3 linked regions of the Homo sapiens genome follow. The protein of the gene in region 2 purifies or fractionates together with the protein of the main gene of each other region. This does not show direct contact. Each region holds a gene or a part of one and is shown on either strand. Other genes may lie near its edges.

The links. The genes of interacting proteins can lie anywhere in the genome.
Region 1: the proteins of IQCF2 (region 2) and TRAFD1 purify together in Homo sapiens (affinity purification with mass spectrometry; one large-scale study listed by BioGRID and IntAct). This does not show direct contact.
Region 3: the proteins of IQCF2 (region 2) and SUGP2 purify together in Homo sapiens (affinity purification with mass spectrometry; one large-scale study listed by BioGRID and IntAct). This does not show direct contact.

What each region holds. Positions count from the first base shown.
Region 1 is NC_000012.12:112,124,217-112,128,624, forward strand, and holds the start of TRAFD1 (TRAF-type zinc finger domain-containing protein 1), read left to right. Parts: upstream 1-1,343; 5' UTR 1,344-1,402; exon of another isoform or gene 1,403-1,933; intron 1,934-4,408. UniProt on the Homo sapiens protein: Negative feedback regulator that controls excessive innate immune responses. Regulates both Toll-like receptor 4 (TLR4) and DDX58/RIG1-like helicases (RLH) pathways.
Region 2 is NC_000003.12:51,859,698-51,864,827, forward strand, and holds IQCF2 (IQ domain-containing protein F2), read left to right. Parts: upstream 1-1,917; 5' UTR 1,918-1,969; coding exon 1,970-1,987; intron 1,988-2,160; coding exon 2,161-2,253; intron 2,254-3,289; coding exon 3,290-3,673; 3' UTR 3,674-3,727; downstream 3,728-5,130.
Region 3 is NC_000019.10:19,023,253-19,027,017, forward strand, and holds part of SUGP2 (SURP and G-patch domain-containing protein 2), read right to left. Parts: intron 2,975-3,765; coding exon 1,367-2,974; intron 1-1,366. UniProt on the Homo sapiens protein: May play a role in mRNA splicing.

The sequences.
Region 1 (4,408 bases), on a different chromosome or scaffold from region 2:
AATATTGCTTTGAGACGGAGTTTTGATTTTGTTGCCCAGGCTGGAGTGCAGTGGCTCAATCTCGGCTCACTGCAACCTTCACCTCCTGGGTTCAAGCGATTCTCCTGTCTCAGCCTCCCAAGTAGCTGGGATCATAGGCGCCTGCCACCACGGCCAGCTAATTTTTGTATTTTTAGTAGAAACGGTGTTTCACCATGTTGGCCAGGCTGGTCTTGAACTCCTGACCTCAGGTGATCCACCAGCCTCTGCCTCCCAAAGTGTTGGCATTACAGGCGTGAGCCACCGCGCCCAGCCTGTTAGATGCTTTTCTTGCTTAGTACTATCTCATTAACATTTTGCAATTATATTATATTATATTATATTATATTATATTATATTATATTATATTATTTTTGAGACGGGGTCTTTCTCTGTCCCCCAGGCTGGAGTGCGGTAGCATGATCAGGGCTCACTCCAGCCCTGCCTCCTGGGCTCGAGGGATCCTTCCACCTCAGCCTCCCAAGGAGGTGGAACTACAGGTGCGTGCCACCACGCCTGGCTAATTTTTGTATTTTTTTTGTAGAGATATGGTTTCATTATATTGCCCAGGCTGGTCTCTAATTCCTGAGCTCAAGAGATCCACCCGCCTTGGCCTCCATATTTTGCAATTATAATCTGCAATGGAATCATAATTTTAAATTGCTGTATTGTTTGTAATATGTGCTTGGTTATACTTATATAATTATAAGTTGGTTTGTAATATGTGCTTGGTTATACTTATATAATTATTCTCTCCTTTATTATACATGAGGTAAGAGAAGCTCAGGGAATCCATTCAGGCAGCAAGTGGAGAAACTAGCTCTCAAACCTGCATCTCAGGCTCTCATTCTTCCACTGCAAAAAAGCAAAGTGCTCAAAAAATATGGTCACAGATCTGCAGAAGTCTTGCACAAGGGCATTATCATAGCAATAAGAATGACTAATAAGTATTAACGGCCCATGAGAAAAGAACAAATACCATTAATTATCTCAATATATTAAGCATATTAGTAATGTTTGTACAGAATTATTCATGCAAATATTATTAGCCTGTGTCGGGGACAGTTGCTAAACTCAGCAACAGGCTCACAGCTCAGCTTCGTGCCTCTGGTTCCAGATGTGCAGGGGCCAGGGCTTCCAGGGACACGCCCCCGTGGGCCTCCAGGGAGCCAATCGACGCGCAGAAGGCGGGGCCCTGGGAGCGACAACGGTGTTATCCAATGGGCCGACAGCTGGAGCCGCCCCTGGCCAATGGGCGCGCTCCTCCGCGATGGGCGGAAGTGGTGAGGCAGCTCTGAGGGCCGTTGTTCAGTGCGGGGTCTGACAGAGGAGGCTCCGTGTCTGCAGCTAGTGTGTCAACTCAGCGTTTCTCCTCTCGTCCCTGGTGAGGTGTAGCGGCGGCACGCGGCTGGAGATCCCCTGTGGCCTCCAGTTTAGGAAGGGTCCAGCATCCCAAGGGAGGGGTGTGTGGGCGAGGGGTCTCTGGGCCCGGGGTCGCGGCTGTGAGGAGAGGATGCCCGCGCGGCGGCATCTCAGGCACCTGGAGGAGGCCGCGCTTTCTCCTCAGGGAACCGGCGCCTTGGCAGCCCCCGGCGACGCCGCCCCCTTCGCGGCCTAGGTTGGTCTGGTGAGCCGGGAAGCGGGCGTCGTTCGCAGCGCCGCTGTGACCACCGCGTCCCGGGCGGAGCTGGGCTCAGTGCCGGCCTGGGCCTAGAGTCCGAGCCTCGAGCTGCCGGCGTGGGGGGTCGCGAGTGGCCTAATGCGGCCTCGAAGCCGAAGGACCCGAGTCCGAGCTCGCACTCCGACCCGCTGGTGCTGTGGAAAACTCAGGTGGCCTTCCGCTTTCGTAGCCTCTAAAGTGGGGACCAAGACTTTCACCTCTTAGGATTGTAGTCGGGATTAAAAGATTTTCCCGGTAAGCGTTTGGCAACTGCTATTATTTGAGAAGCCGCTTACTTCTTCACTCCCCATCACCGACCTTCCTGGGGACGGGGGCGATTGGAAACTGCCTTGGGGTATCTGGACCCGGCAGGGGAAGCTCCGCCGCCTCGGGCAGAGGGACGGTCCCCTCTGCGGACTAGAGAGATCTAGCTGACCCCCAACAGGCTCCTTATAAGCTTGAAGACTTTTCTGTGCCTCAACTCTTCCGTGCATTCGCCCGTTTCCTTGACCCTTTGAAGTATTGTCAGTCCTCTGCCTGAAGAATCTGAGGCCCAGAGAGGTTAAATCTGGCAGAACCAGCCAGACCTTGACCCCCAGAGGGGGACCCTGCAGGCTACCCCCAGTCTCCTTGCATCTAGAAAAGCAAGCACCTGCTACATCTGAGCTCTGGCCTTAGAGTTGGCCAGAGTGGGCTGGAATAGAGCACACCTGAAATCAGTCGGACAGCCTTCCTTAGTTGCCATTTCATATCAGAGTGAATATCTTTTTTTTTTTTTGAGATGGAGTCACCTTCTGTTGTTCAGGTTGGAGTGCAGTGGCGAGATCTCAGCTCACTGCAGCCTCCGCCTCCTGGGTTTAAGTGATTCTCTTGCCTCAGCCTCCTGAGTAGCTGGGATACAAGCGCCCGTCACCACGCCCAACTAATTTTTGTATTTTTAGTAGAGACTTGGTTTTGCCATGTTGGCCAGGCTGGTCTCGAACCCCAGACCTCCAGTGATCTGCCCACCTCGCCCTCCCAAAGTGCTGGGATTACAGGCGTGAGCTGCTGCGCCCAGCCCAGAATGGGTGTCTTGAATTATGTCATTCCCTAGTTTAAAGCCCTTCAGTGGTTTACCATTGAGCTTGGAATCGAATCCAATATTCTTTCTGTCTGATATGACAAGACCTTCTTGAGTCATTCCCCTTTTTTATTATGCTCTTCCAGATCTGCCTTTACTTTCTCTTTCATTGCTTTTAGGCCTTTTGCCCTTCCCACTGCCTGGATGGATTTCCCCGCATTCCCATCCTCTATCTTTGTCTTTTCGTGGTTGGCTCTTGTACTTCAGTTCTTAATTTAAATGTCGTCTCCCCAGAAAGTTCTTCCCTGACCACTCTTATCTACCTAAAGTAGATTTGCCTCTATTCCGCCCCCATTTATTTGTCAGTATACTTTTCCATCACAATACTCAAGTTATATGTATTTTTTTGCTTATTGTTTTTCTCTACCACTAAATCGCTTTATCAGAGACTATATTTCCTTATTTTGTAAAGTATTTTTAGTGCCAGGGCACAGTGGCACACAGTATGGTCTTCTTTTTCTTTGAGACAGGGTCTCACTCTGTCACCCCGGCTGGAGTGCAGTGGTGTGATCACAACTCACTCACTGTAGCCTCGACCTCCTGGGCTCAAGCCTCCCAAGTAGCTGGGACTACCTCAGCCTCCCACCCCAGCCTCCCAAGTAGCTGAGATTACAGGCATGTGCCACCATACCCACCTAATTTTTTGCTTTTTTGTTTTTTGTTTTTTTTGAGAGGGAGTCTCGCTCTGTCGCCCAGGCTGGAGTGCAGTGGCGTGATCTCGGCTCACTGCAAGCTCTTTTTAGTAGAGACTGGGTTTCACCATGTTAGGCAGGATGGTCTCGATCTCCTGACCTTGTGATCCACCTGTCTCGGCCTCCCAAAGTGCTGGGATTACAGGCATGAACCACCGCACCCGGCTGCTTATTTTTTATAAAGGCAGGGTCTTACTATGTTTCCTGGCTGGCCTTGAACTCCTGAGCTCAAGTGATCCACCCACCCCAGCCTTCCAGAGTGCTGGGATTACAGGTGTGAGACACTGCACCTGGCCCACAGTATTGTCCTTTTTTTTTTTATTTTTATTTTTTGAGACAGAGGCTCACTCTGTTGCCCAGGCTGGGGTGCAGTGGTGTGATCCTGGCTTACTGCAACCTCCACCTCCCGGGTTCAAGCAATTCTGCTTCAGCCTCCCTAGTAGCTGGGACTACAGGCACCCGGCTAATTTTTTTATTTTTAGTAGAGAGGTGTTTCGCCATGCTGGCCAGGCTGGTCTTGAACTCCTGACCTCAAGTGATCCGCCCACCTCAGCCTCCCAAAGTGCTGGGATTACAGGCATGAGCCACTGGACCCAGCCTCAAAGTATTGTCTTAATTAAGCATGTTGAACAAATGACTAAATACATGTTTTGAAAAGTGGCAACTCGCTTGATAATGCCAAAACCTTTAAAGAACCCTACTGGGGGCAGGATTTAAGACCATTTTTGTATCATGGAAAGGAATAATCTAAACTAAACAATGGTAGTAAAGTTGCCAGTGCTTTGCTTTCTGCATTGACATCTTGTTTAAAAAGCAGGAGAAACTTTATAGTGAAGAAATTTGGCAGACACCATATCAACTATGTGATCATGGTTTACATCAATAGTAAAATAAGACTGTTGACATCATGTACCTTCT
Region 2 (5,130 bases):
AAGACATCTGTGTCTGTAGGTTAGAAGACTTAATATTGCTAAAATGACAATATTCCCCAAATTGATCTACAGATTTAGCATAATCCCTATCAGAATTCAGCTGACTTCTTTTGCAGAAATTGACAAGCTGGTTCTAAAATTCATATGGAAAGTCAAGGGATTCAGAATAGCCAAAGCAATCTTGAAAAAGAAAAACAAAGTGGGAGGGCTCACACTTCCTGATTTCAAAACTTACTACGAAGCTACAGTAATCAAACTGGTTTGGTACAGGCACAAACACAGACATATAGGTCAGTGAAATAGAATAGAGAGTCTGAAAGAAACCCATATATCTATGGTCAATTTAGTTTTGACAAGGGTGCCAAGTCCATTCAATGGGAAAACAATTGTCTTTTTGACAAATTATGCCAGAACAACTCGACATCCACATGTAAAAGAATGAATTTGAACCTAGCCTCACTCCATACACAAAACTTAAAATGGATCAAAGATCTAAATGTAAGAGCTAAAGCTATAAAACTCTTAGAATTTTAAATCGGCCAGGTATGGTGGTTCACACCTGTAATCCCAGCACTTTGGGAAGCTGAGGTGGGAGAATCACTTGAGCCCAGGAGTTTGAGACCAGCCCAATCAACATAGTGAGACCCCATATCTTAATAAATACATACTTTAAAAAATAAAAGAACAAAAAAATGAAAAAAATAAATAGCCAGGCATGGTGGTGTGTGCCTGTAGTCCCAGCTACTCAGGAGGCTGAGGTGGGAGGATCACCTGAGTCCAGGAAGGTCAAGCCTGCAGTGAGCCAAAGTTGCACCACTGCACTCCAGCCTGGACAACAGAGTGACACCCTATCTCCAAAAAAGAAAAAGAGAGAAAGAAAATCATTTTCTCTTAGTGTTCAAATTTGTCACCATCAATATTTCCTTGTATTTATTTAAATTTCCCTGTGGCTATTTCACCTTTTTCATTCCACTTCATTCTCTTGATTACCCAGGTTGGTAAACTGTGTATCTTTAAAACTGGTCTTGTCAGAATACTGCCTTTTAAATTTATTTTCCACTACCCATCTTTGTTTTCTATGCATTAATTTAAGTTTTGATCTTTATTTGACTGCTTTCCAGATTCATCTGGTGTATCTTTTTCTAGTTTCCTAAGGCTTTGTGAGGCACCGAGTCAAGGGAAGAGAGGAAGTGCTAAATCTCACCAGACGCTAGAGAGTGATATGGGGATGCACCGTCATGGTCCTCCCTGCTTTGCCATGCTGATGATAATGAGAAGGGACTGTGGATGGACTTCACATGAGGAGAGCCCTGCTATGGAATGGCACTCAAGTGCTCTATTTTTCCACCCTCAGCTCTGACACATCTCTGACAGGAGGCAAGCAGACACATGGTACTGAGGAGAGAGGCCATTTCTCTTACTGTCTCCTGTCTCTGAAGAGAATGAGGAAGTAAAAGCTGAAGAACAACAGGAATGAAGTCAGTGGCAAGACCAACTGGTGCCACTGACCAGACCTGAGATTGAAAGATTAACCCTCCCCACCCCCAACTCTAACCACATGTGCTCTCAATCTATCACAACACTTTCACATGGACCCCTTAGAGTTGAAAGCCCTAAAAAGGGCCAGGTTTCACATGGACCCCTTAGAGTTGAAAGCCCTTTAAAGGGCCAGGAACTCTTTCTTTAGGGAGCTCGGTTCTTGAGATGCAAGTCGGCCAATGCTCCCGGGGGAATAAAGCCTCTTCCTTCTTTAACCCAGTGTCTGAGGGGTTTTGTCTGCAGCTCATCCTGCTACAGTACAAGTTCCCCTGGAGTTTGTTTCTGACAGAGACACATCTCTGTGGCAGATGTCCCAATCCCTATGTCATAATGCAATTGTGAATTCAGAGCTCTCTCCTCACTCACGTTACTCATGCCAGACCTTGGGAAGCAGAGAAATCAGGGCTAATGAACCATCTAAGGACAGGCCATGAGGGTTCGATTTTGTGTAAGAGACATGGCCAGATCTATTAGGTGGACCAGGAATGGGTGGGTATCTCCCTGGGCTTTACAGGACTTGAGAAAAGAGAGGATGTTAAAGTAGTAATTGTCTTTGTATAGAGCCATAGAGAGAAACAGTCTTAACTCATTTATGTACTTCCCATTTAATTCTGATGACAGACCAAAGGCAATTTAATTTTGGTTATAATTGAGGATGTTGAAGAAAGCATTGAATGGAAGACATTGCAGAAGAAGAAACAGCAGAAAATCAAGGTGAGAAGAATTCCATGTACTTAAGAGAAATCCAGAACATTTATAACTACATCATAAGGTGTAGGACTTTGCCTCTTATCAATCCAGGGTCTAATTAGGAGTCAACTCAATGTTGGCTCATTTTTCCTCCATTCTCTTCTCAGTCTGGGCTGTCTGGATCTGGGCCTGACTGAGATATTGAGAGTGATTGGAAAGAATGAAAGCCTTGGGAGGCCGAGACAGGCAGATCATGAGGTCAGGAGATTGAGACCATCCTGGCTAACACGGTGAAACCCCATCTCTACTAAAAATACAAAAAATTAGCCGGGTGTGGTGGTGAGTGCCTGTAGTCCCAGCTATGCTACTCAGGAGGCTGAGGCAGGAGAATGGGTGAACCCGAGAAGCGGAGCTTGCAGTGAGCCAAGATCACGCCACTGCACTCCAGCCTGGGCAACAGAGCGAGACTCCTTCTCAAAAAAAAAAAAAAAAAAAAGAATGAAAGCCATCAAGAAATGCATAAGGCTGAGAGGTGAGAATGTGAGAACTTGGAATTAGAGAGTAGACTGTTCAAAATATGGAAAGACTTGGAGTAGAATATGTGGTCAGGGTATTGAAAACCTACCATAGTATCAAAATATGGTCATAGCAGACAGAAATCAGCCAGTGGTGGTTTGGGGCTGGAATTAGCAGATAATTACCAGGCAGAAGGTTATGAGGCCTTTCCAAACCCAGTGAGCACCAAAGAGGTGAGTGTGACTAACAAGGTCCCACACATCCCTATTGCACCCTTCTAGTTACTAATGGTTTTTCCCTTGATCCATGCACTGCAGAAATAGTCTGCAGAAGAACTCTGTGACTCTAAGATTGAAGTGATGTGCCCACAGTGGCAGAGGAAGGTCACCACCAGGTCTGATGGCTCCTAGTCAGTGTCCTGCTAACTTCCCTGAATTCTGAGGAAGGGCTGTGTTTTGAGAGAGAAAATCCAGGCTCCTTCCAGGAAGATCCTAGAAGTTGGTGGCAGGAAGTTTTCTGACTGATCGCTCTTGTCTCTGCCTAGGAAAAACTTAGAATAAGAACAAAAGCAGCTGTAAAGATCCAGGCCTGGTGGCGGGGCACCCTGGTGCGCAGGACACTGCTGCATGCAGCCCTCAGGGCCTGGATAATTCAGTGCTGGTGGCGGATGACGCTGTCGAGGGTGCTGGAGAAGAAACGGCAGGCAGCTCTGATCGCCTACGCAACCAGAGAGAGGGCAGTGATCAAGCTCCAGTCTTTGGTCCGTATGTGGCGTGTCCGCTGGCGATACTGCCAGGTGCTCAATGCCATCTACATCATCCAGGGCCACTGGCAATGCCACAACTGCCAGACCTGCGCTCTCCTCCAGGGCCACTGTGTGGTCACAGCCACTCACCTGCAGTTCCACATTGAGATCATCAACTCCTAAGGGCTGGCAAGAAGGGCACTGTGTCTACTGTCCCTATTAAAGGTCTAACCTGGTCTGGTGTGTCTCATGGGCTCCCCCAGCTAATGGGATTCTTGAGACTTGGACCTTGCTGCCTCCTCTTCTCCCTGAGAAAGAATTTCAGTGAGGTTTGCCCCCTGTGTCCAAGGACCCTGTTTTGGACTGACAATGGCCATAGGAAGCCCCAGTCTGCTCTGATATATGACAGAGCCAGAAATCCCAGTTCCCATCCCCAGCCTTATTTTCTTCTCACCGGGGGATCTGGGAGGCAGTTGGGCTCCATCTTCCTGAAGATTCTGGGCACCTCTGCACATATGGATGGACTATTGGGCCCTGCTCTGTCAACCTAGAATCAAGGTCGGCTGGGGTTTGGGATGCCTCAGTTTCCTCTTTGGCAAGCACCTAGATGGAAAGGCAATATTTGGCTGATTCTCCTGGGAGCAATGTAGTGCAGCCCCAGGTGAAGGATAAGAGGCTGGCCTTACTGGTAGGTGGGGCTGGGGCTAGGCATGCTAATGATTAGGTGGTGACCCTAAGGACTAGTGGAAAACAGAAGTTTACAGAAGTTCATCTTTTCTCTACAATTTCCTCACTAGAACTCGTCTCCCCAAGGGCCAGGTGACAAACAGGGCTCCCTCTGATATTACCCCCACCCCTACTCTTATCTCAATTATTGGTGATTTTATCATTGGTCAAGATGACCCTACAATCTCCTCCATTCTAACCTCAAACCTTTTCTGCTCTTCTCCTCAGCTATTCACTCCCACAGTCATACCAAAACAATGCTATTCTATGGAACTTCTGTGATGATGGAAATCTCTCTCTATGCTGTCCAACATAGTAGCCACTAGCCACATATAGTTGTGGTGCACCTGAAATGTGCCTAGTGCAACTGAGGAGTTGAATTTTTTATTTTATTTAAATTTAAATAATCATTGGACAATGATGCTCTAGACCTCATCATCACCAATAATTGTACTATTGCTCAAATTGCTTTTTCTAATTTTCCATTCTTTGATTACTTTCTTCTTTCAGTTCACCTTTTCAATAACCCCAATATTTCTTCAGATATGATAAGGTCTTCCAGTTTATTGATGCTATCATTTTTTTACAGCCACCACCCCTGACATGCTCTTGCATGTTTCTTTACCTAGTGCAGATTCCATGGTTAATTATCATCTCTCCCCTGCACTACCTCACTTCCTTGGCCCACTTTCTTTCTGCAAACATGTATGAGATGAAGGCAACCGTCTCCCTGTTCCATGCCTACAGAATAAGGGAACATGGCTGGGACAAAACCAACAACCATGAGGCATGGTCTTCATTTATATTCATGACCACATATATCAACTGGACTAATTTCCCAATGAATTTATTTAGTATGTTTGCATTTATATTTTCCGAGTTGAATAATTTACACCACCTCCTCTCCAAATGTT
Region 3 (3,765 bases), on a different chromosome or scaffold from region 2:
CCAACTTTCCAGGCTAGACTGGAGCCTCTCCTGTGTCGCTTTAATTCTAGCACAGGGGTGACTGTTTTTTTGTTTTGGTTTATTGAGAGACAGGGTGATTCTAGCCCAGGCTGGAGTGCGGTGGCTATTCACAGATGCAATCATAGGTCACTGCAGCCTTGAACTCCTGGCCTCAAGCAATCCTCCCTCCTCAGCCTCCCAAGTAGCTGGGATTTCAGACATATGCTACCACCCCTGGCTCACAAGTGACTGGTCTTTGTGATTTTCTTCCCTCAGGAGCCTGGGGATTCCTCAGAGACAGTGCTCTGTGTCTTTTCTCCCTTCTAGTAATACCTTGTGGGGACATGTTGGAACAAGGGTTCCAGGCCAGGTGCAGTGACTCACACCTATAATCCCAGCACTTTGGGAGGCTGAGGCAGGTAGATCACTTGAGCTCAGGAGTTCGAGACCAGTCTGGGCAACATGATTCTCTACAAAAAAATACAAAAAAAGTTAGCCAGGCATGGTGGTACATGCCTATAGTCCCAGCTACTCAGGAGGCTGAGGCGGAAGGATCACTTGAGCCTAGGAGGTCGGGGCTGCAGTGAGCCATGGTCATGCCACTGCACTCCAGCCTGGGTGACAGAGCACGACCCTGTCTCAAAAAAACAAAAACAAGGAAAGAAAGTCAACCCTTCTTTTTTTCAAAGGTTAAAAAGAAAAAAAAAGGAACAAGCGTTCTTAACCTTGGCTGCAGAAAGGTACGAATCCCCCGGATGATATAGGTAAAATTGTGCGTGAATAGATGAGCATTTTTTCTGGCAATGGCCACAGCTTTCTACCAAATTCCCAGAGAGGTATTTGACCTAAAAATGTCTAAAAATTTTTATTTTTCTGAGACAGAGTCTTGCTCTGTCACCCAGGTTGGAGTGCAGTGGGGTGATCTCAGCTCACTGAAACCTCCGCCTCCCAGGTCCAAGTGGATTCTCCTAACTCAGCCTCCCGAGTAGCTGGGATTTCAGGTGCGTGCCACCACACCCGGCTAGTTTTTGTATTTTTAGTAGAGATGGGGTTTCACCATGTTGGCCAGGCTGGTCTCAAACTCTTGGTCTTAAGTGATCTGCCGCCTCAGCCTCCCAAAGTGCTGGGATTACAGGCATGTGCCACCACACCCGGCTGTCTAAAGACTTCTATGGTAAACAGCAGATTCCTAATACACATTCACAGAATGAATGGCAGACATATATTGGCCAATGTGCGTTTTCTACTAAAATCCTGATATGTTTCCAATTGGCTAAAGAACTTCTGTGTAAAAAAATCTCGAATAAAAGACATTACCAAAGAAACACGAAAAACAACAAATAGAAACTTTGGCTGATTTCCTTACCATCACTCAGACTACTTGGAGCCTTGGCCTGAATTTCAGGTTTCGTAGGAGGAATCATTTTCTCCTCCTCTCGCATCGGCTCTGGTTCGGCTTTCTTAACCTGGAGGGGACATCCGCTGCTGACTAGCCAGGCCTTCAGGTGGTCTATGTACTCTCGCCCAAACAAAGTGGAGTCTTCGAAGTTTGGAAACGCAGCAGGTGAGGGAGCTATATCTTGCAGGCCGACAGCTTCTAAGATTTTCTCCTGCCGGAAAGAAGAGGCCAAGGAAAATGTCTGTCCCAAAAGGGCCAAAGACTTCCGGCAGAGAGAGTTGGTGGTTTCTAGGGCAAGAGCCAAGTCCAGGGGGTTACTGAGGGTCTTCATCTTGACACTTAGCTCGTAGGCATTGCAGGCCATAAGCAAAGGTGTGACACTCTTCAGAAGCCGGTCTTGAAGTCTCATTATGTACTTGTCAAAAGGCTTTATGATTTCAAAAAAGCAATTTTTGGTCTTCACAGCACCTTTGTCTAAAAGCATGTTTAAAAACTCATTATCAACTCTGGGTGTTTTCAAAGCAGAGTGCTTTAAAAATTTGATAGTAAAAAAGCAAAAATCTCTGTGCTCTGGTTTTAAGGAACATTTGAATGAGGCAAGCATTTTAGCACAGGTTTCTGTTTCAAGTTCAAAGAGAGTCTGGAAAAGTTGGGAAAATTTAATATCATCTTTTATGGTGTGGAATCCTGCCCATTTGATTATTTCTATCCCAAATCTTGAAAAAACATCAGACTTATCTATGATGTCAAAGCTCATCTTTCTTCTGGGGAGCCGAAGATTCTTCAGATCCAGCCCCAGAGGGATCTTCTGAATGGGGAACTGGATATCTTCTGTCCCTGGGTTTGTCCCCAGGGTCACATCAGGACTTGGAGTGTTTTTCTGGATTTGGTTAGTGCCCTGAGTTTTGGGAGTAATACGATTCACGGTGGGTATTTTTTTTGTGCTCACATTTCTCAATGTGACAAGTTTCCCAACACCCCCCTTAGCTGTGAGCAGGCCCTGAGTCTCCCCCTTTCCTAGGAGGGAACCTTCCTGGTCAACGATGTTTAGAGCTCGACCTCTGGCCTGGACTTGACTGCCGCCCCTAAGCACAGAGTCAGCCTCCCCAGGATGGTCCACGTCATAATCCCGACTCTCCTTCTCCAAACACTCTTTCTCAATCAGCCTGGAAGATCCAAAGTCCCCCAAAACTGCAGAGGGACCAAAACTATACTCCTGTGACCAAGAGGACTCTTGAGAAACTGGATGGCCAAAGTCTTGTTCCCAAGAACCACGGAGCGCAAATTTCCAGTCCTGAGAACGGAAATGCCCCAATTTCCGGTGGCCAATGACCTGGTCCCGAGAATCAGAGTGAGAAAATTCCAGATCCCGGCCACATTCTTTGCGAAAGTAGCTGTCATCACTGATGGAAGGGTTGCTTGATCTGAAGGAAGGCCCTGGAAATACGTCACTTCTCAGGCCTTCTCTTCCGGCATCTCTAGAGTGAGCTACAGATCCACTGAGGGAGTATCTGCCATCGCTGTGGACGTCATCATACATCTCTGCTCTGGATCTTGGGACTGCCCTTAAGAGATCTGAAATAAACCATCCAAAAAAAAAAAAGAAGAAGCCAAAAGATACTTTAGACCAGAGAATGCAAACAGTGCAAACAAACAGTCCACGGATCACCAGGCAGCAAAACTGCTTTATACACCTCAGTGCTTTTTGCCAATCTGTATTTGCTGCCAACATTTAAAATGCGTGTGGTGTCACTTAAAAATCTGGATCGACTACTTACTAAAACAGAAGACCTATAAGCACCAAGCCTGAGTTTGCCCTGATGACGTCAACCCAGGCTGGGCAGTAGCAGCCTGACGGGCAAGACACAGACTCTCTAAGTTGGCACCAACAGCCCTCGCTCATTCAGATCCCCCTACTCTCTAGCCATCTGGGTTGACAATCCCTCTTTTAGTCTGAGGAAAGGGTGTTTGGTCCCCAAATAACCTGGATATTTTTACTGCAACTGGAGCACTTCTGTGTTTCTACTTCTATCTCAGAACAGACAGGTTTTATTGAGGCTACCTGCCTTCACTGCCTCTTAGAAGGAAGTCTCAGCCCACAGTGCCACCGTGAGGCTAGAGGAACCATAGCTAACACCACACCCACCACAGCTGACCCAAAGCTGGCTGAACCCATCCCTCGGAAAGGTCGGCCAGGCCAATCAACCCTCTCTCTGGAGCTGAAAAACCACAGACCGAGGCAGGCAGGAGGGAAGGCAGAAGCTTAACAAGATACATCAAGAGAGGCCATGATGGAAACTGAACAGTGCCCAATTCTGTCCTTCTCCATGTAGAAAAGGGGAAATGGGCCAGGCACAGTGGCTCAA